4 linked regions of the Homo sapiens genome follow. The protein of the gene in region 2 purifies or fractionates together with the protein of the main gene of each other region. This does not show direct contact. Each region holds a gene or a part of one and is shown on either strand. Other genes may lie near its edges.

Region 1 (5,042 bases), on a different chromosome or scaffold from region 2:
ATCCTCCCACCTCAGCCGCCCGAAGTGTTGGAATTAGAGGTGTGAGCCATAGCACCCGGCCTATTGAGGCTTTGTATGTCTCTGTCTTTTCTCATATTATAATAGTCAGGATTTCTAAAAACGGTATTAAATCATAATGGTGAAAGCTGGTATTTTGTTACAATTGTAATCAGCATGCTTCTTGTGTTTCTTGTGTTTTGAATTTAAGGTAGCTCCTGGGAGGACGTGGACAGCTTTATCATTTAAAGCAGGGCTAGTAAACTGGCCCTCTGGCTAATCCCACCCTCTGCTGATGGGCATTTAGGTTGTTTCTACTTGTTGGCTATTATAAAACATGCTGCTATGGTCACTTAAGTGTTTACATGGATGTTTGCTTTCTAACTTGCATTATTTAGCCTTTGATGATCCAAGGAGGAAAGATTCTTGTATAAGAAACACTTATACACATATATATAAGTGTTTATATGGATGGTATCTTTTGGGTAGACACCCAGGAATGAAATTGCTGGGTCATATGTAATTTTTTTTTTCTTTTTTTTGAGATGGAGTCTTGCTCTGTCACCCAGGCTGGAGTGCAGAGGCGTGACCTTGGCTCACTGCAACCTCCACCTCCTGGGTTCAAGCGATTCTCCTGCCTCAGCCTCCTGAGTAGCTGGGATTACAGGTGCACACCAACATGCCCGGCTACGTTTTTGGTATTTATTTTTAGCACAGATGGGGTCTTGTCACGTTGGCCAGGTCGGTCTCGAATTCTTGACCTCAGGTGATCCGCGCCCTCAGCCTCGTTAAGTGCTGGGATTACAGGCGTGAACCACTGCGTCCAGCCCACATGTAATTTCTGAGGGACTACTAGACTATTTCCAAAGTGGCTGCACCATTTTACATTCCCATCAGCAATATCGGAAGGGTCCACTTTCTCCTCACCTCACTAACACGTTATTATCTATCTCTTTTAAGTTACAGCTGTCCCAGTGTGCAGGAACTGGTATCCCATTATAGTTTCACTTTGCATTTCCATAATGACTAAGAAGGTTGAGTCCCTTTCCATAAGCTTATGGGCATTCATGTATTTTCTTTGGTGAAATCCTATTCAAATCCTTTGTCCGTTAAAAAGTTTTAAAATTTATTTAAAAAAAAATTTTTTTTTTGATACAGGGTCTGTAGCCCAGGCTGAAGTGCAGTGGCACAATCTCAGCTCACTGCAACCTCTGCCTTCCAGGTTCAAGTGATTCTCGTGCCTCAGCCTCCCAAGCAGCTGAGATTACAGGCATGTGCTACCACACCTGGTTAATTTTTGTATTTTTTGTAGAGATGGGGTTTCACCATGTTGCCCAGGCTGGTCTCAAACTCCTGATCTCAGGTGATCTGCCCACCTTAGCCTCCCAAAGTAGCTGTGAGCCACTGCACCTGGCCTAAACATTTTTTAAACGTATTTTTTATTGTGGTAAAAAAAACACGTTAACATTGAATTTACCATCTTACCCATTTTTATGCAGTGTCCAGTATATTTACACTGTTATGCCACAGATCTCCAAAACATTTTCATTTTGTAAAACTGAAACTCTATACTCAATAAACACCAATTCCGTATTCCCTCTCTGCCCAGCTCCCGGCAACCACCTTTCCACTTTCTGTTTCTATGATTTTGGCAACACTGGATACTTCACATAAGGAGAATGATACACTATTTGTCCTCTTATTTCACTTAGCATTACATCCTCCTCAATGTTCACCATATTGCAGTATAAGACAAGACTTCCTTCTTTTTTGGAGGCGGGGGATGAAGTCTCGCTCTGTTGCCAGGCTGGAGGGCAGTGGCGCGATCTCAGCTCACTGCAACCTCCACCTCCCGGGTTCAAGTGATTCTCCTGCCTCAGCCTGCTGAGTAGCTGGGGCTACAGGTGCACGCTACCACGCCCAGCTAATTTTTGTATTTTTAGTAGAGACGGGGTTTTGCCATGTTGGCCAGGCTGGTCTCAAACTCCTGAGCTCGGGTGACCAGCCTGCCTTGGCCTCCCAAAGTGCTGGGATTACAGGTGTGAGCCACCGCACCCAGCCCACAATTTCTTTATCCATTTATCTATTGATGGATATGTGGGTTGTTTCTACCTCTTGGCTACTGCAAATAAAGCTATGATAAACATGGGTATGCGAATCTTTTTGAGATCTGCTTTGAATTCTGTTGGATATATATCCAGAAGTGGGACTGCTGAATCACACTAATTCCATTTTCAATTTATTTTTTATTTTTGTGAGACAGGGTCTCACTGGGAGTGCAGTGGCATGATCATGGCTCACTGCAGTCTCCACCTCCCCAGGCTCAAGCAATCCTCCCACCTCAGCCTCCTGAATAGCTGAGACTACAGGCATGTGCCACCACCACGCCTGGCAAGTTTTTTTTTTTTTTTTTTTTTTTTTTTATAGAGACAGGGTTTCACCATGTTGCCCAGGCTGGTCACCAACTCCTAGCATCAAGCGATCCTCCTGCCTTGGCCTCCCAAAGTGCTAGGATTACGGGTGTGAGCCACCACACCCAGCTGCTGTCTTTTCAAATTCTTTACCCATTTTTTAATTGAGTTATCTGTATTCTTATTATTGAGTTGTAAGAATTATTTATCTATTCTGAATTCAATTTGCTTATCAGACATATGATTTGCAAATATTTTATTCCAGTATATGACTTGTCTTTTTAATTAAATTTTTTTTTTTAGTATCACTGAAAGTAAGGCAATTTTTTGTTTTGTTTTGAAACAGTCTGCTGTCACCCAGGCTATAGTGCAATGGGGTGATCTTGGCTCACTACAACCTCTGTCTCCCAGGTTCAAGTGATTCTCCTGCCTCAGCCTCCTGAGTAGCTGGAACTACAGGTGCACACCGCCATACGTGGCTAATTTTTGTATTTTTAGTAGAGACAGGGTTTCACCAAGTTGGTCAGGCTGGTCTCAATCTCCTGACCTCAAGTGATCTTCCCACCTTGGCCTCCCAAAGTGCTGGGATAACAGGTGTGAGCCACCATCCCCGCCCTAATTTTTTATTTTTTTGAGACAGGGTCTTATTCTCTCCCAGGCTGAATAGTAGTACAATCATGGCTCACTGCAGCCTCCACCTTTAAGGCTCAGGTGATCCTCCCACCTCAGCCTCCCGAGGAGCTGGGACTACAAGTGTGTGCCACCATGCCCGGTTAATTTTTGTATTTTTTTGTAGAGTTGGGGTTTCGTCATGTTGCCCAGGCTGGTCTCAAAGTCTCAAACGTCTGGGCTGAAGCAATTCTCCTCCTTCAGCCTCCCCAAAGTGCTGGAATTACAGGCATGAGCCATCATGCCCAGTCTTTATTTTTATTTTTATTTTATTTTTTTGAAAAGGAGTCTCACTCTGTCACCTAGGCTAGAGCACAGTGGTGTGATCTCAGCTCACTGCAACCTCTGCCTCCTGGGTTCAAGCAATTCTCCTGCCTCAGCCTCCCAAGTAGCTGGGATTACAGGAGTGCACCACCACGCTCGGCTAATCTTTATATTTTCAGTAGAGATGGGGTTTTGCCATGTTAGCGAGGCTGGTCTCGAACTCCTAACTTCAGGTGATCTGCCCACCTCAGCCTCCCAATGTGTTGAGATTACAGGTGTGAGCCAACATGCCCGGACTTTTTTTTTTTTTTTTTTTTGAGACAGGGTCTCACTCTGTTGCCCAGGCTGGAGTGCAGTGGTGCAATCTTGGCTCACTGCAAACTCCATCTTCTGGGCTTAAGCAATTCTCTTACTCAGCCTCTCAAATACCTGGGACCTCAGGCATGTGGCATCACACCTGGCTAGTTTTATTTATTTATTTATTTTGGTAGAGGTTGGGGGTCTTACTATGTTGCCCAGGCTGGTCTTGAACTCCTGGACTTGAGTGATTCTCCTGCCTTGGCTTCCCAAAGTGCTGGGATTACAGGCATGAGCCACAGTGCACCTGGCTAGTCTTTTGCACTTCTAAAGCCTGCTGGGAGTTTGATAGGGATTCTGCTGAATCTACATATCAACTTGTGGAAAAATTGTTATTTTTCTACTCAAACTAGCAAGGAAAAAAAGAAGAAACCATTATTGACATGGTGTGTATATATGACAAAAGTAACGTTTCAGAAAAGATGATATCCAAGAAGTATGTAAACTAACCTTATGCAATATTGGTTTTGCTTTTAAAAAAAAGGTGCTTATCTTTTAGAAATATATATAGTACTGAAATATTTATGAATGAAATAGAATGCTGTCTGGGATTTAATTCCAAACAATCTGGGTTGAAGGAGTTAGGCCTAAACAAGATTGGCCATGTGTTAATTATTGAAGCTAAGAGATGGATGTGGAAGGGGAGCCCCATTATTCTCTCTAGTTTTGTATGTTTGAAAAATCTCATAATAAAAACATCAAACGAAACATTAGTGCAGTGTTAAGTCACAGTACTATCCTCAGATTTTTTTCCCTAGAATTAACACTATGGCCTAAACTAATCTATTCACAAGACTTAAAAAATCACCATTCAGTAATATACTCACCAGTAATTGCCCCATTCAATCATGGTTCCTGGCTGAAAACAGATTTAGATTTGGTTTGTTAGTTCTTCTGTGAAAAAAAAAATACAGAAATAGCAAACAGCAGTAGAAAAAACATTAAGTGACAAAACTAACTTCAAAAAACCTTTTTTTTTTTTTTTTTTGAGACAGAATCTTGCTCCGTCACCCAGGCTGGAGTGCAGTGGCTCAATCTCAGCTCCTGAAACCTCCGCCTCCTGGGTTCAAGCAATTCTCCTGCCTCAGCCTCCTGAGTAGCTGGGATTACCGGCGCCCGCCACCATGCCTGGCTAATTTTTTATATTTTTAGTAAGAGATGGGGTTTCACCATGTTGGCCAAGCTGGTCTCAAACTCCTGACCTCAGGTCACCCACCTGCCTTGACTTCCCAAAAAGCTGGGATTACAGGCATGAGCCACCACACCCAGCCAAAACTTTACTTTTTAATTTAATAGAGACAGGGTCTCACTATGTTGTTCAGGCTGGTCTCAAGCTTCCTGGCT
Region 2 (5,042 bases):
CCCACCTTGGCCTTGCAAAACGCTGGGATTATAGGTGTGAGCCACTGTGCTCAGCCTTTTTTTTTTTTTTTTTACGAGAAAAGAGGTCTCTTACTTTGTCATCCAAGCGAGAGTGCAGTGGCATGATCATGGCTCACTGCAGCCTCAACCTCTCAAGCTCAAGCTATCCTCCCTCCTCAGCCTCCCAAGTAGCTGGGACTATAGGCCACGCCACCATGCCCAGCTAATTAAAAAAAATTTTTTTTTCTTTTTCTGAAACTGCTCTGAAAAAATTTAAATGGCATTGGAGTCTTTTCATAAAAGGCACACCTACCCTGGAAAACATCTGGGCTTTGTGTTTTGTGGGGAATACAACTTTCTCTCTCTTTTGGGGATAAAGTGCTATTAATTTTTTAAAAATAAAATCATCAATTGTATCCAAACTTTTAAAGTAACAGACATTGAGTTCAGCTAAGCAGTCTTTTATAATTCACAGATGGAATGAAAACTAAGGGAGGGACGAGGTGACCCATGGAGGTTGTATAAAAAGGACAGAGCCTTTGGGCTCTTCAGACTATAAGGGTCCAGGAGGAGAGGAGAAACCACCTCAGAAGCATACAAGGTTAAAGCATACAAGGTGGGTGTAGGGTCAGGGGAGCCAAAGTAAGTGTGCAATGAAAAGTTATTAACAAAAGTCAAAAAAAGAAAATGCAGTCTGGCCATCCAATTCCTAAACCATGTACAGAGTACACAGAAAGAGCACAGGAGGCTTCCTGCAGCAGGGCAGTACAGCTCTCTGCCCTTCAGGAAAACTGAGATTCCTCCACCTGGGAAACAGCAAGGGACAATTAGGGAAAGCTCTCCAGAGGAGGAGGCATCTCAGGTGGGCCAAAGAAGAAAAATTTCCACAGGACAGAAAAGGCAGAGAAGAGGCCAGGCATGGTGGCTCACGTCTGTAATCCGAACACTTTGGGAGGCCAAGGCAGGCGGATCACCTGAGGTCAGGAGTTGGAGACCAGCCTGGCCAACATGGCAAAACCCCGCCTCTACTAAAAATACAAAAATTAGCCGGGTTTGGTGGCACACGTCTGTAATCCCAGCTACTCAGGAGGCTGAGGCAGGAGAATCACTTGAACCCGGGAGGCAGAGGTTGCAGTGAGCCGAGATTGCCCCACTGCACTTCAGCCTGGGGGACAGGGCGAGACTCCATCTCAAAACAAACAAACAAAAGGCTGGGCGTGGTGTGGCTCACACCTGTCATCCCAGCACTTTGGGAGGCCAAGGAGGGCAAATCACAAGGTCAGGAGTTCGAGATCAGCCTGGCCAACATGGTGAAACCCTGTCTCTACTAAAAATACAAAAAATTAGCCGGGCGTGGTGGCGCACACCTGTAGTCCCAGCTACTCGAGAGGCTGAGGCAGGAGAATTGCTTGAACCCGGAGGCAGAGGTTGCAGTGAGCCGAGATCACACCACTGCACTCCAGCCTGGGTGACAGAGTGAGATTCCGTCTCAAAAAAAAAAAAAAAAAAAGAAATTTATGTTCTTTGTAAAATAATTCAGACAATGCAGTAAACAGAAGAAATTCAGCCTCCCTCTCCCTTTGCCCTTTGCTGAGTCCCCACGGTGCAGCAAGATCCTTCCAGATCTTCATGGTTGGGATCATCTTCCACCAGGTCCTGAGGTTTTTCACTCCCTATCAGTAGACACACCACACTGCCCAGTTTGCAAGTAGCTCCATTGGATAACACAGAAAGGCTCTGTCCTGCACCATGTCTCAGCACTGGGTGCATCGTCCCACAGGAATGACACCTAGACACCCAACATACAACTGCAGGGCCCTAAACTATGGGCCAGCCCACCCCTAAATGCCCTTCTCTCTACCCTTGCCCATATCAAATATTACAAGCCTCTCACACATATTTACCAGTCATACTGGGAAAAAAATAGTCCTTTATCATTTTAACATTTCACAAGTAACTAAAACAAATAATAAACATGCTAACACTTGGGAATGGTCTATTTCTTTTCTTTTTTTTTTTTTTTGAGACGGAGTTTCATTCTTGTTGCCCAGGCTGGAATGCAGTGGCGCAATCTCGGCTCACTGCAACCTCCGCCTCCCGGGTTCAAGCAATTCTCCTGCTTCAGCCTCCTGAGTAGCTGGGATTACAGGCATGTGCTACCACGCCCAGCTAATTTTGTATTTTTAGTAGAGACAGGGTATTGCCATGTGGGTCAGGCTGGTCTCCAACTCCTGACCTCAAGTTATCCGCCCTCCTTGGCCTCCCGAAGTGCTGGAATTATAGGAGTGAGCCACCAAGCCTGGCCTCTTTCTAGGCTCACTGCAACCTCCGCCTCCTGGGTTCAAGTGATTCTCCTGCCTCAGCCTCCCAAGTAACTGGGATTACAGGCATGTGCCACCACGCCCCGCTAGTTTTTGTATTTTTAGCAGAGACGGAGTTTCACTATGTTGGCCAGGCTGGTCTCGAACTACTAATCTCAGGTGATCCACCCGCCTCGGCCTCCCAAAGTTCTAGGATTACAGGCGTGAGCCACTACATCCAGCCTCTTTTTTGTTTTTTTGAAACAGGGTCTTGCTCTGTCACCCAGGCTGGAATGCAGTGGCACAATCTCGGCTCACTGCAACCTCCGCATCCTGTGTTCAAGCAACTCTCCTGCCTCAGCCTCCCAAGTAGCTGGGATTACAGGCGCCCACCACTACACCCAGCTAATTTTTTTTTTTTTTTTTAGTAGAGACAGGGTTTCACCATGTTGGCCAGGCTAGTCTCAAACTCCTGGCCTCAAGTGATCCACCTGCCTTGGCCTCCCAAAGTGCTGGGATTACAGGTGTGAGCCACCGTGACTGGCCTCTATTTCTTATTTATACATACACACACACACCCCCCTGTGAAATGACTCTGGGCTCTTCCAATAATGTTGCCACTCTCCCGCTCCCCTTCCCAATGGAAGTGGAGGGATGCAGGGGGTGTTAGTGATGCATTGTAATCATCCCGGAGAGCAGGACACCTCTCATAAGAGGTTTACCCAAGGGGGGCTGTGGAAAGGGCTAGAAATTGCTCCTGGAGGACGTGGAAAGCCACATAAGGTTTTTGACAGATTAGCGAAAGGCTGCCTACACTGTCATCTTCAGAAAGAGTGGTATGACACTAAATCAAGAAGGGCTGAGAGGGTGAGCCCAGGGGATCCCATAGGCTCCACAGCCTCTGGCCATCCTCTCCTATACAGGTCCTAAGTCCCCTGCAGGGGGCCCTCAGCTCCTCTACCCTACCCACTGTCCTGTATGTTATCTTAATGCTTATTAAAGGCCTCAGCTGAATTTCCCTGGTGAACTGAAAGAATTCTGCTGCTCCTGGACACATCTGCACCAAGCCACCACTGGGTCACATTCTCCAAAACTCCTTTTGGAGACAGAAGGCACTTAAACCATACATATTTTGCTTGATAGTTCCTAATTAAAAAAATAGAGAGAGATAAAGAGAAAGAGAGAGAGAGAGAACTACAACTAAGCCTTGAAGACAAAATGATTGAACAGAATCAGAGCTAGAATGGAACACCTCAGGCTTGGAGTCCCATGACAACCTTGCTGGGGACCACGAGTGGCCCTCAGTCCTTCTCAGGCTCATGCCACCTATGTGAAATAAGGGTGGTGACACCCACCTCCTTGAGTGCAGAGCAGTGCAGACAACAGGGCAAATGGTGTATTGATCTGCTATCTGTGTACATAAATTTATTCATTTAAGCCATGGGTATTGTTTGAATATGTGAAAACCATGTCAGGTGCTAGGGATAAGAGACAGATTCCAACCCAGTGGAAAAGACAGATAAGCCAGTGGTTCCTCACACTGTGCCAAGTGCTGGGATGGGGTCACGAAGGAGGCCATAAGAAACCCCAGAGGGGCCACAGAGCTCACTGGGAGGGCCAGAGGCTAACACCTGAGGGATGAGAGGTGTGAGCCAGAAGGTGATGCATACACAGCAATAATTACTGACGGAGGGGAGGAATGGTAAGGGAGGGGAGGAGAGAAAGGAGGAAAGAAAAGAGAAAAGAAAAGAGAGAGAAAAGGAAAAGAAAAGGAAGAGAAGAGAGGGAAGAGAAGAGGAGGCAAAGCCCAAGAAACAGGATCACTGAATGAAAAATGAACTCTAAGACCCCCTTCTGTCTCTCACACTTGTTGACTAAGTCATAGCCACAAGGAGTAGGGGAGGCTCTGAGGTGAGCAGGAGACCAGCCACTGTCACCGCCAGTACCTTTACTAGCAGAGCCAGGATTACCTTTGTTATTCTTCTTACAAACAGCTCTAGTGAACTCACCTGAAGTAATCGCAGGACGCAGCCAGCAGGATGCGATGGGCCTCGATGTGTCTGCCCTCCACCACCAGCACAACATCGAAGAGGATTCCGCTGTCCCGGAGAGCCAGCAGCCCTCGGAGCAGAGCCTGGGAGTGCTGTGCGCTGCGGTAGGTGTTGTTCACGCAGTGTGGGTGTGAGGGCTGTGCAGGCAACTTGCAGAGCTGGGTGAACTCCTGCTCCTCTGCCATCCTGACAGCCACAAGATCCCTTACAACTGTGGCCTGACAGTTGGCAAAACAGGGGACAGGGGTGAGCAGGCAGGCATCAGCCCCACCACACACAGACTGGCCAGCTCTGTTGCTCCCCTTGCTCCTGTGCCTCCCTCAGGCTCACCTGTTTTCCCTCTATTTCCAAATCCCCTAATTCCTTCTCCCCTCCCACCTCTAGTCCAACTTCCTGATGGCCTTCTTCCTGATGACCTGTGTGCCATCATGCCCAAGACTCTTCATCTCATTGTATCTTCTTCAGCGGCAAAGTCAAACAGAAGGGTTTTGGGAAACAGACTGACCTGGGTTGGAGCCCAACTCCACAGGGACTTACAACATGACCAAACTGAGCCTCGAGCTCCCCAATTTTAAAAAGAGAGATAAAAGTACCTACCCCATTGGGGTATTCTAAAATTGGTAAAACAATGAACATGAAGCATAAGCACACACCAGGTTCTCAAGAGCTCTTCCTCCCTCCCATTGAATGA
Region 3 (5,042 bases), on a different chromosome or scaffold from region 2:
GTGGCTTTGCCGGGCTCAGTGGCTCACATCTGTAATTCTAGCACTTTGGGAGGCCAAGGTGGGCAGATTGCTTGAGCTCAGGAGTTCAGGACCAGCCTGGGCAACATGGTGAAACCCTGTCTCTACTAAAGATACAAAAATTAGTCAGGCTGGTGGTGCGTGCCTGTAGTCCCAGCTACTCAGGAGGTTGAGGTGGGAGAATCACCTGAGCCTGGAAGGTTGAGGTGGCAGTGAGCCCTAATTGGGCCACTGCACTCCAATCCAGCCTGGACAACAGAGACCCAAAAAAACAGAAGTATCAGTCTTGTGACTTTAAGAAACTTCTGTGGCCAGGTGCAGTGGGTCACACCTGTAATCCGAGCACTTTGGGAGGCCAAGGTGGGCAGATCACCTGAGGTCAGGAGTTCCAGACCAGACCTGCCCACATGGTGAAACTCCCATGTCTACTAAAAATACAAAACTTAGCCGGGTTTGGTAGCTGGTGCCTGTAATCCCAGCTACTCAGGAGGCTGAGGGTGAAGAATCGCTTGAACCTGGGAGGCTGAGCCAAGATCACACCACTGCACTCCAGCCTGGGCAACAGAGCAAGACGCTGTCTCAAAAACAAGAAAGAAAGAAACAAACTTCTGTAATTAGAAAATGAGTCCTTCTATGGTTTAAATTTTTTTTTTTTTTTTTGAGACAGAGGCTCACTCTGTCGCCCAGGTTGGAGTGCAGTGGTGCGATCTCGCCTCACGGCAACCCTCACCTCCCAGGTTCAAGCGATTCTCCTGCCTCAGCCTCCCAAATAGCTGGACTACAAGTGTGCACCACCACACCCAGCTAATTTTTTGTATTTTTAGTAGAGACAGGGTTTCACCATGTTGGCAAGGCAGGTCTCGAACTCCTGACCTCAAGTGATCCACCCGCCTGGGCCTCCCAAAGTGCTGGGATTACAGGTGTGAGCCACTACGCTCAGCCAGGCTTAAATTTAAGTTGACAAAACTGACTGCCCCATTTGTTCCCTTGAAACCAAAGTTTCATTTAGTAAGCTGCTCTTCTCTGTCTTGCACTTTGAATTTTACAGAAAAATTACTTTTATACTGAATGGTAATGTGATAAAAATGGAAAGAAATCGGGCCTACAGATTTTGGATTCCAATTCTGGTTTCCCCTGTGAACTAATCTCTTAACCTATTTCCTCATTTGTAAAGTGGCAGTAATTTTATATTTTATTACAGTAACCAACACAGTGTAGATCCTCAAAAATGTTCATTTTCTTCCCCCTTATTCCCTTTTGTAAAGATGTATTTATTCTGTGTATTTCAGGTACTACATTAAACCTTCTGAAGTTTCCTATTTGCAACCCAACTCCTTACAGAATGTTTAAAAGGCATCAAAGACTTAAAAAAGATTCAACTCAAGCTGAAGAAGATCTTAGTGAGCAAGAACAAAATCAGCTTAATGTCCTCAAAAAGCATGGTTATGTCGTAGGTAAGCATCCTCTATGGGAAAACCCTCGTTGGTACTATGCTAAAATTCTTTGTTAAGCAACCTGAAATACAGCTGTCCGAGGCTAGCCAGTTTTTGTGGGGAGAGACTGCCTTCCTTATTCTGCAACAAAGAGGCCCTTTAGCGATAAGGCTACTGTTTGGAAACCCAGAGCAGTACAGGTAGTAAAAGTTTTTACTCCATGCAGCAGCTTTAGATTAGGTTGTCTGTCTTTCCTTGGTATATCTTTTCAGCCTTTCTTTAAAACAGTCTGATTTCCACACACCCTTGCCCCCGCCACTCCATGTACACAGCCAGCCACACGCTTGATTATTGCAAGAGTTGACTCCCACTGCTTTTTGGAAAAAAAAAAAAGCAAAAGTATCATTATGGTCTCACTTCCCTACACTGTAATCTTAGTAACTTGTTTGAGGGAAACATAAAAATTATGTCTGGAGTTAAAAGTATTAAAGGAGTGACTAATAACCTTACTATAACTTGTTCTAGGAAGAGTTGGAAGGACATTCTTGTATTCAGAAGAACAGAAGGATAACATTCCCTTTGAGTTTGATGCTGATTCACTTGCCTTTGACATGGAAAATGACCCTGTTATGGGTACACACAAATCCACCAAACAAGTAGAATTGACTGCACAAGATGTGAAAGATGCCCACTGGTTTTATGACACCCCTGGAATTACAAAAGAAAATTGTGTATGTATTTGGTTTCTTTTAGAAACATTTACTTTCTTTTTCTTTTTTAATGGGTTTATATTGCCTGCTGCCCAGATACAGCCAATTTATCAAGACAGGGGAATTGCAATAGAGAAAGAGTGTAATGCATGTAGAGCCAGCTAAATGGGAAACTGGAGTTTTATTACTAGTCATATCAGCCTCAGAAACATTTACTTTCAATTGCACAAGTACTGCTGTCTTAATTGGCAGAAAACAGGAAAAGAAGTATACTTCCATTTTAGACTCAGTTCTGATTCATTCATGAAAGCTGTTTAGGGGTGAATCTGTATGCCATCAAGTTCTGTGTTCCATTTGATAGACTTCATTGCTGACAACCAACTTATTTTATCATTGTGATTGTTACCTTGGTTAGGGAAACGTTTACAGAAGCCTAGGTTTTGAGGTTGGAAAAACACATAAATATCACTGGAGTCCAACTCCCTAGTCCCTGCTTGAATTACCTCTGTAACATATCCATCAAGGGGTCCTCCATCTTGAACTGAAAGGAGTGACTCACCAAAGCTGAAACTGTCATGTCACCTTCCAAGGTAACTCATTTGGGTCTTTGACCTTCTCTTTGTATTGAGTGTACTGAGCTGAATAGTCTCCCTGTAACATGTATCCATTGTTCCCCAAAGCCATCTGGGACTAAGGTAATACCTATTTCCCTTGCCAGACAAATATTTTAAAATGTAACGTCCCATCTCTTCTTCACCTATCCCTCCCTTTTCTTCTCTTTCATTACTTCATCCAGCAAACGTTGAGCATTCACTGTGCCCACAATCTGGATTATTTGTCTTCATTTCCTACAGCTGTGCTGTAGGAAACAGGCTATTCATTGGCCCAGGCCTCTTCAGAATGTTTTCTATGTTTGTTCTTAAAGTGTGACACTGAGAACTCAGTGCTCTCAGGTGAGCATGATTTAGAATAGCATTAACTCCGACCGGGCGCAGTGGCTCACGCCTGTAATCCCAGCACTTTGGGAGGCCCAGGCGGGCAGATCACAAGGTCAGGAGATCGAGACCATCTGGGCTAACACGGTGAAACCCTGTCTGTACTAAAAATACAAAAAATTAGCCAGGAGGTAGTGGGCACCTGTAGTCCCAGCTACTCGGGAGGCTGAGGCAGGAGAATGGTGTGAACCCGGGAGGCGGAGCTTGCAGTGAGCTGAGATCGTGCCACTGCACTCCAGTCTGGGTGACAGAGCAAGACTCTGTCTCAAAAAAAAAAAAAAAAGAATAGCATTAACTCCACCTGTCTTGTCCCTATGCCTCTCTTTTATCCAATTGCTCATGGACAACTTTGGGCCTCATAGGTAACTTTGACTTTGTCTTGTTAAATTCAGCCTATATCTTACTCTGTTAAATATTCATTCAATCTCATTACTTTTTATATTTGCAGTTTGGATCTTCATTCAGATCATTGATTGACTCAAATGTGCATCCAGGATACAGCCTCACAACAGATTCATTAATCATTTCCTTCGAATCTGGTTACTGACCAGTTTCCGATTTTCTAATTATCTCTGTATCTCCCTACAAAACCACATTGGTTTCTTAGGTACTTTTCTTGGCCTCATCAGGAACACTTATAGTTACATTCTCAGAATTGTATTCTATTTGGTGTCCCCTGTCATTGAATCATACACACCTTTTAAATTTTATTGCTCTCCTGGAATAATTGCTCATGCCATCTTTTCTTCCTTAGCAGTCCAAAAGTTCAGAGCTGCTTTCTAATAATATTCTGTCACTTTAGCTTAATGAACTAATTCTTCCCCCACCATACTTTTTTTTTTTTTTTTTTTTTTTTTTGAGATGGAGTCTGACTCTCTTGCCCAGGCTGGAGTGCAGTGGCGCAATGATCTTGGCTCACTGCAACCTCTGCCGCCTGGGTTCAAGCGATTGTCCTGCCTCAGCCTCTCGAGTAGCTGGTATTAGAGGCATGTACCACCACACCCAGCTACTTTTTGTATTTTTAATAGAGACAGGGTTTCGCCATGTTGGCCAGGCTGGTCTCAAACCCCTCACCTCAGGTAATCCACCCACTTCAGCCTCCCAAAGTGCTAGGATTGTGGATGGGAGCCACTACGCCCAGACTAATTCTTCCCTTTCAGATGCTATTAGATCAGGCATAGCAGTTACTTCAGTCATATATCCTCTATTAAATAGTTGTGTCAGAAAGGCAAGAATTTGCAAAATACTCTAGACAGCAGAATGAGAACCCCAAATTTTTAGATATAAACGTCTGTCAGCACTGGTAGTTTGCTTCTCTGTTAGTTTACAGATAAACTTATTTGATGTCTTAAACCAGGGTTTCCCAGACTGAACCAAGGATCTCTGTTGTGAAATGAAAGTATTAAGACTCAGGCTGTGCACAGTGCCTCACACCTGTAGTCCCAGCACTTTGGGAGGCCGAGGTGGGAGGATTGCTTGAGCCCAGGAGTTTGAGACCAGCCTGGGCAACATGCCAAAACTGTATCTCTACTAAAAATACAAAAAATTAGCTGGGCATGGTGGTACATGCCTGTAATCCCAGCTATTGAGGAGGCTGAGGCACAAGAATCACTTGATACACTTATTGGGAGGCAGAGGTTGCAGTGAGCCGAGATCATGCCACTGCAGCCCAGCCTGGGCAACAGAGTGAAACCCTGTCTCAACAAAAAAGAGAGACAAGGTTTCCCCTGTTGCCCAGGCTGGAATGCAGTGGCGTGATCAAGTAACTTCAAAGTCCTGGGCTCAACCAATTCTCCCACTTCAGCCTCCCAAGTAGCTAGGGCCACAGGTACATACCACCATGCCCAACTAATTGTTTAGTTTTTGTAGAGACAGGACCTCGCTAT
Region 4 (5,042 bases), on a different chromosome or scaffold from region 2:
GAACTGCAAAATTTATCTCCTAAACATCTCTGGGATGAATCTGCTTCTCTTCATCTCCATTGCCACCACCTTAGTACAAACTACCATCATCTCTCAGCAAGCTATACTGAAATTAATCTCGTGACTAGTTTATCTGCCAATCTACTCTTTTCAAAATCCAAGTCTGATACTGTTACCTCTCTAAGATGCCTCAAGGGGCATTTTAAGATAAGGGCAAACAATTTTAACAAGGCCTATAAAGTACTTCTGCATTTGATCTGTGACTCACGTTGACCCACCAAGGTCATCACTTAACTCTCTCCTTCTTACTCCCTGAACACCAGCCAAAATGCCCTTCTTTCAGTTCTTGCTATGTTCATTCTCACAGGAGGGCCTTTGCATATGCTGTTCTCCTTGCCTCAGATTCACTTGCCTACTCTGTCTACCCAGTTAATTCATCTCCATTTTTTTTTAGAGCACAGCTCAATTGCTACTTCCTCAGATAACACTTCTTTTTGAGTCTCCCAGACTGGGACATTTCCCCCTGACAAAACCCTACTTCTAAACCAACTCAACTACCTTCATTCCTGTATCTCAGCTGCCAAGTGTGGCTGAAGGAAGTCACCAATGTGTTCCATCATCCTCAAGTGCACCCTTCAAAAAAAAGTCCCGCCATCTTTTTACAAACAGCCGTAGCACTATATGCCTCTACTTCATAGCACTGACCATAATTCTAATTTAACACTTATCTCTGTGACAGCTGCCTGGTGCCTGCCTCCTCCATTTTATATCAGAAGCTCCATGAAGACAGTCTGCTTTCTCCTCAACAATGGATCCCTAGTGCTTTGCCCAGTGCCTGCCAAAGAGCTGGCTCTCAAAATGTTTCTCTCAAATGGAGTCTAAAAATTCTTTTTTTTTGGCCTACCTTTCCCAATGGAGTCTAAAAATTCTTTAAAGTGCCTTACCTTGTAAATCTTCCATCAATTCAAACATTCCAGGATAGTTAACTTGAATTTCATCAGTGTCCTATTTAAAAAGAAAAAGAAATATTCATTTGACATTCATGATACAAAATTCCAGATTTAAAAAAGAGGCCGCAGAGACTACCCAGACCAATCTCCCATGCTAAGCAAAAAATATTTACAATATTCTTCATAGATGTCATCTGGCTTATGTTTGATTTATGAAAGTCTCTAATTGCTGATTAAATATCCTGCATTGTGAGAGAAATCATCCTAAAACTCCATCATTGGTTCTAGTTCTCTCTTTGGGAACCACACAGAATAAGAGTATTCTGTACCCTACAAACCATTGCCCTCTCCTCCAAGTCTTTGAAAACCTTCAGGACACAAAAATCTGGAGATCCTTACATGTTCTGACTACATGTCCCTGGACAGTGTCAATATCAATCTTTCTTAAAATGGGGCACCTAGAATCAAAATATTTCATTCTATATCTAGTAATGCAGCCAATAGGCTTGTTTAGGAAATGAGCACATTGCTGATACATGTGGAGTTTGTTTCTCAAATGAACAATTGGGTAATGACTTCCTCTTCTTTTTGAAGCCTGATACAGGACTTAACTGTTGGTACAGTGGCAGAGACCACTGATGCTCCCCAAATATCCAGGTGCTCCTTGACACTTCCCAATCTCAAACACATATTTCTTTTGGCCAAAGAAAGGAGGGGCAAGACAGTTAAGAGCTAGAGCCTTTTCCAGGCCATCTCTTTTGCTGTGGTGATCTTATAGAACACAGGGCCAGATTATAGAACACAGGGCCAGATGGCACAGCTACAAGATGGAGATGGGCTGTCCCACCAGCACGCAGCTGTGATGTGATAAAACTTTATTGTGTTAGGCACTAAAAGTAGGGGTTTATTCTTATTGGAAACTAGCCTAAAATAATTTTTTTTTTTTTTAAGACGGATTCTTGCTGTGTTGCCCAGGCTGGAATGCAGTGGTGTGATCTCTGCTCGTTGCAGCCTCTGCCTCCTGAACTCAAGCGATTCTTGTGCCTCAGCCTCCCGAGTAGCTGGGATTACAGGCGCCTGCCACCGTGCCCAGCTAATTTTTTTTTTTTGTATTTTTAGTAGAGACGGGCTTTCACCGTGTTAGCCAGGCTGGTCTCGATCTCCTAACCTTGTGATCCACCAGCCTCAGCCTCCCAAAGTGCTGGGATTCCAAGTGTGGGCCATGGCGCCTGGCTGGAAACTAGCCTAAAATAAATCTAAACATCATTAATAGAGGACTGGTTAAACAAATTAAAGAATATGTATTCTATAAAATACTGTACAGTTCTCAAAAAATAAGGTAGATACATGTCTATAGGAAAAAAATCTCCAAGACATGTTATTGACTGGAAAAAAAAAAGCAAAAGAGTGCATGTAATATTATATAAGTAAGTTTAAATGACATAAGTGTATTCTATGGGTCTATAAAAAAAAGTGGATCTGAAACGATGTCTAAGACACAGCTAACAAATCTTTGGGGAAAGGGACCAGGGTTTGAGAAGTCAGGAGGAGGGACAGGCACGATGGCTCATGCCTGTAATCCCAGCACTTTGGGAGGCCGAGGCAGGCAGATCATGAGGTCAGGAGATCGAGACCATTCTGGCTAACATGGTGAAACCCCATCTCTACTAAAAATACAAAAAATTAGCCAGGCATGGTGGTTGGTGCCTGTAGTCCCAGCTACTTGGGAGCCTGAGGCAGCATAATCGCTTGAACCCGGGAGGCAGAGGTTGCAGTGAGCCGAGATCACGCCACGGCACTCCAACCTGGGTGAAAGAGCAAGACTCCATCTCAAAAAAAAAAAAAAAAATTGCTGGGTGTGATGGCACATGCCCTTGGTCCCAGCTATTTGGGAGGCAGAGGCATGAGAATCCCTTGAACCTGGGAGGCAGAGGTTGCAGTAAGCGGAGATCTCGCCACTGCACTCTAGCCTGGGCAACAGAGGGAGAAGTCAGGAAGAGGAGACTTCGTTTCACTTTACACCCCACTGTATCACTCTCTCTATATATACCTTACTCTTCTTTAAAAAAACATATACGTGTATCAGGTTGTGTATGCTTTTTAATGAGACCTCTAGGTAGTGAGACCATGAACATTCATCATCCATATACTTTTCCATATTAACAAGCTGTTTTTAAGAGGAGATCCTAAGATTAAAAACAAAATTCTTTCCAGGCTGTTATCTAGCCATTAAGCAATATCCTTTGAAAACAATTCTTCAGTGCAACCAACTAAAAGCACTATCTCCACTTCAATCAAAAGAATGCCACAACAGCTTTGTTGAAGGCCTTATTTAAATTAAAAGGGGACCATATCTGCACCATTTTTTTTATTTTATTTTTGAGACGGAGTCTCACTTTGCCACCCAGCGCCCAGGCTGGAGTGCAGTGGTGCGATCTCGGCTCACTGCAACCTCCGCCTCCCAGGTTCAAGCTATTCTACTGCCTCAGCCTCCCAAGTAGCTGGGACTACAGGCCATGTGCCACCACGCCCAGCTAATTTTTTTGTATTTTCAGCAGAGACGGGGTTTCACTGTGTTAGTCAAGATGGTCTTGATCTCCTGACCTTGTGATCTGCCTGCCTTGGCCTCCCAAAGTGTTAGGATTAGAGGCGTGAGCCACCGTGCCAGGCCTTGCACCATTCTCTTAAAGTACTAGTCTGGTAGTTCAGTTCTAAAACGGAAATCAGCTTTACTTAGAATGCTCATTCTCTGAAAATAATTCATTAAGATGAAAATACATTAAGATGTAAATACATCTATATGATACTAATCTGACTCGATTTCACTTTAAAAATAAAAATCCATTGTAGCGTAAAAGTAATATATCTAATGTATGCAACATAAACCTGTATAGCTGATTATACAAAAGCTTTTTTGGATGGGAATTTTTAGAAAATGAATTAGAACACATATTATTATTATTTTTTTTGGAGACAGGATCTTGCTCTGTCACACAGGCTGGAGTGCAGTGGTGAGATCATGGCTCACTGCAGCCTCAACGTCCCAGGCTCAATCCTTCCAACTCAGCCTCCCGAGTAGCTGGGACTACAGGCAGGCCCAGCTATTTAAAAAAATTTTTTTTTAGAGATGAGGACTCCCTATGTTGCCCAGGCTGGTCTTGAAATCCCAGGCTGAAGTGATTCTCTGACCTAGGCCTCCCAAAGTGCTGAGATTATGGGAGTGAACAACTGTGCCTGGCCAGGACGCAATATTAATACAGCACCTCAGAAACAAAACTGTATACATGCCTCACAGGATAAATGTAATGATTCAAGAAGACATTCTCATAACTTTCTTATTAAATCAGCAACTTTCTAATTGTATAAACTAAAGAAGATTCTACACCAATATTTTTATATTATATTAAAGTATGAGTCATTAGGCTCATTTTTAGAGAATATGGATAGTATTCTGAATTATATTTCCCAATTAATAGAAATGTAGGCTTTTAAACATTTTAACATCAGGTTAAACATTTTTAGTAGAAATCTTTCTAAAACTCATTCTTTATAACCACAGAAAACCATGTGTAGTTCACATAATTTAACTTTCTTCTGGTGATTAGCAGAAATCCCATTTTTTTCGTAATGGGCAATAACTTTTGAGTCCTGTAATATTGCTGACTAACCTGTATGACCTCGTATAAATTTTTTAACATCACCTCATGAAAATGTGCACTACACATCGCCACACCATCCCAGCCCTACACCTCCTATACTTTTTAGAGGCTTTACATTCCCGGAGATTCTTTTTTCATCTCAATGATAGGTTGGTGACACAGCAATATAGGAGACGATTCTCAAGAGGGTAGACTGTAAAGGAAATTTTTTCCATATTATAAGTAAAATAAATATTATCAAAAAGGCTTTAAATCACTGGTTCCTAATCTATTTTTAGTTATATTAGCTCTCTCAAGATCTGATGAAAACCATGGGTACTTTCCTCCATTTATGAACACCACCACCACAAATTTTGTGTACAACATCCCAGTATTATTGAACGGTCTAAAGTTTACCAACAGGCCTGCTATAAACCCAAAAACACCACGCAGG

The links. The genes of interacting proteins can lie anywhere in the genome.
Region 1: the proteins of KLHL22 (region 2) and NIPSNAP2 purify together in Homo sapiens (co-immunoprecipitation; 4 studies listed by BioGRID and IntAct, with this or other methods). This does not show direct contact.
Region 3: the proteins of KLHL22 (region 2) and NOA1 purify together in Homo sapiens (co-immunoprecipitation; 3 studies listed by BioGRID and IntAct, with this or other methods). This does not show direct contact.
Region 4: the proteins of KLHL22 (region 2) and NDUFAF5 purify together in Homo sapiens (co-immunoprecipitation; 3 studies listed by BioGRID and IntAct, with this or other methods). This does not show direct contact.

The regions. Positions count from the first base shown.
Region 1 is NC_000007.14:55,984,362-55,989,403, reverse strand, and holds part of NIPSNAP2 (protein NipSnap homolog 2), read right to left. Parts: intron 4,558-5,042; coding exon 4,526-4,557; intron 1-4,525. UniProt on the Homo sapiens protein: Protein involved in mitophagy by facilitating recruitment of the autophagy machinery required for clearance of damaged mitochondria.
Region 2 is NC_000022.11:20,484,676-20,489,717, forward strand, and holds part of KLHL22 (kelch-like protein 22), read right to left. Parts: intron 4,570-5,042; coding exon of another isoform or gene 4,537-4,569; coding exon 4,310-4,536; intron 1-4,309. UniProt on the Homo sapiens protein: Substrate-specific adapter of a BCR (BTB-CUL3-RBX1) E3 ubiquitin ligase complex required for chromosome alignment and localization of PLK1 at kinetochores.
Region 3 is NC_000004.12:56,970,288-56,975,329, reverse strand, and holds part of NOA1 (nitric oxide-associated protein 1), read left to right. Parts: intron 1-1,307; coding exon 1,308-1,472; intron 1,473-1,976; coding exon 1,977-2,182; intron 2,183-5,042. UniProt on the Homo sapiens protein: Involved in regulation of mitochondrial protein translation and respiration. Plays a role in mitochondria-mediated cell death. May act as a scaffolding protein or stabilizer of respiratory chain supercomplexes. Binds GTP.
Region 4 is NC_000020.11:13,804,805-13,809,846, reverse strand, and holds part of NDUFAF5 (arginine-hydroxylase NDUFAF5, mitochondrial), read right to left. Parts: intron 1,006-5,042; coding exon 945-1,005; intron 1-944. UniProt on the Homo sapiens protein: Arginine hydroxylase that mediates hydroxylation of 'Arg-111' of NDUFS7 and is involved in the assembly of mitochondrial NADH:ubiquinone oxidoreductase complex (complex I, MT-ND1) at early stages. May also have methyltransferase activity.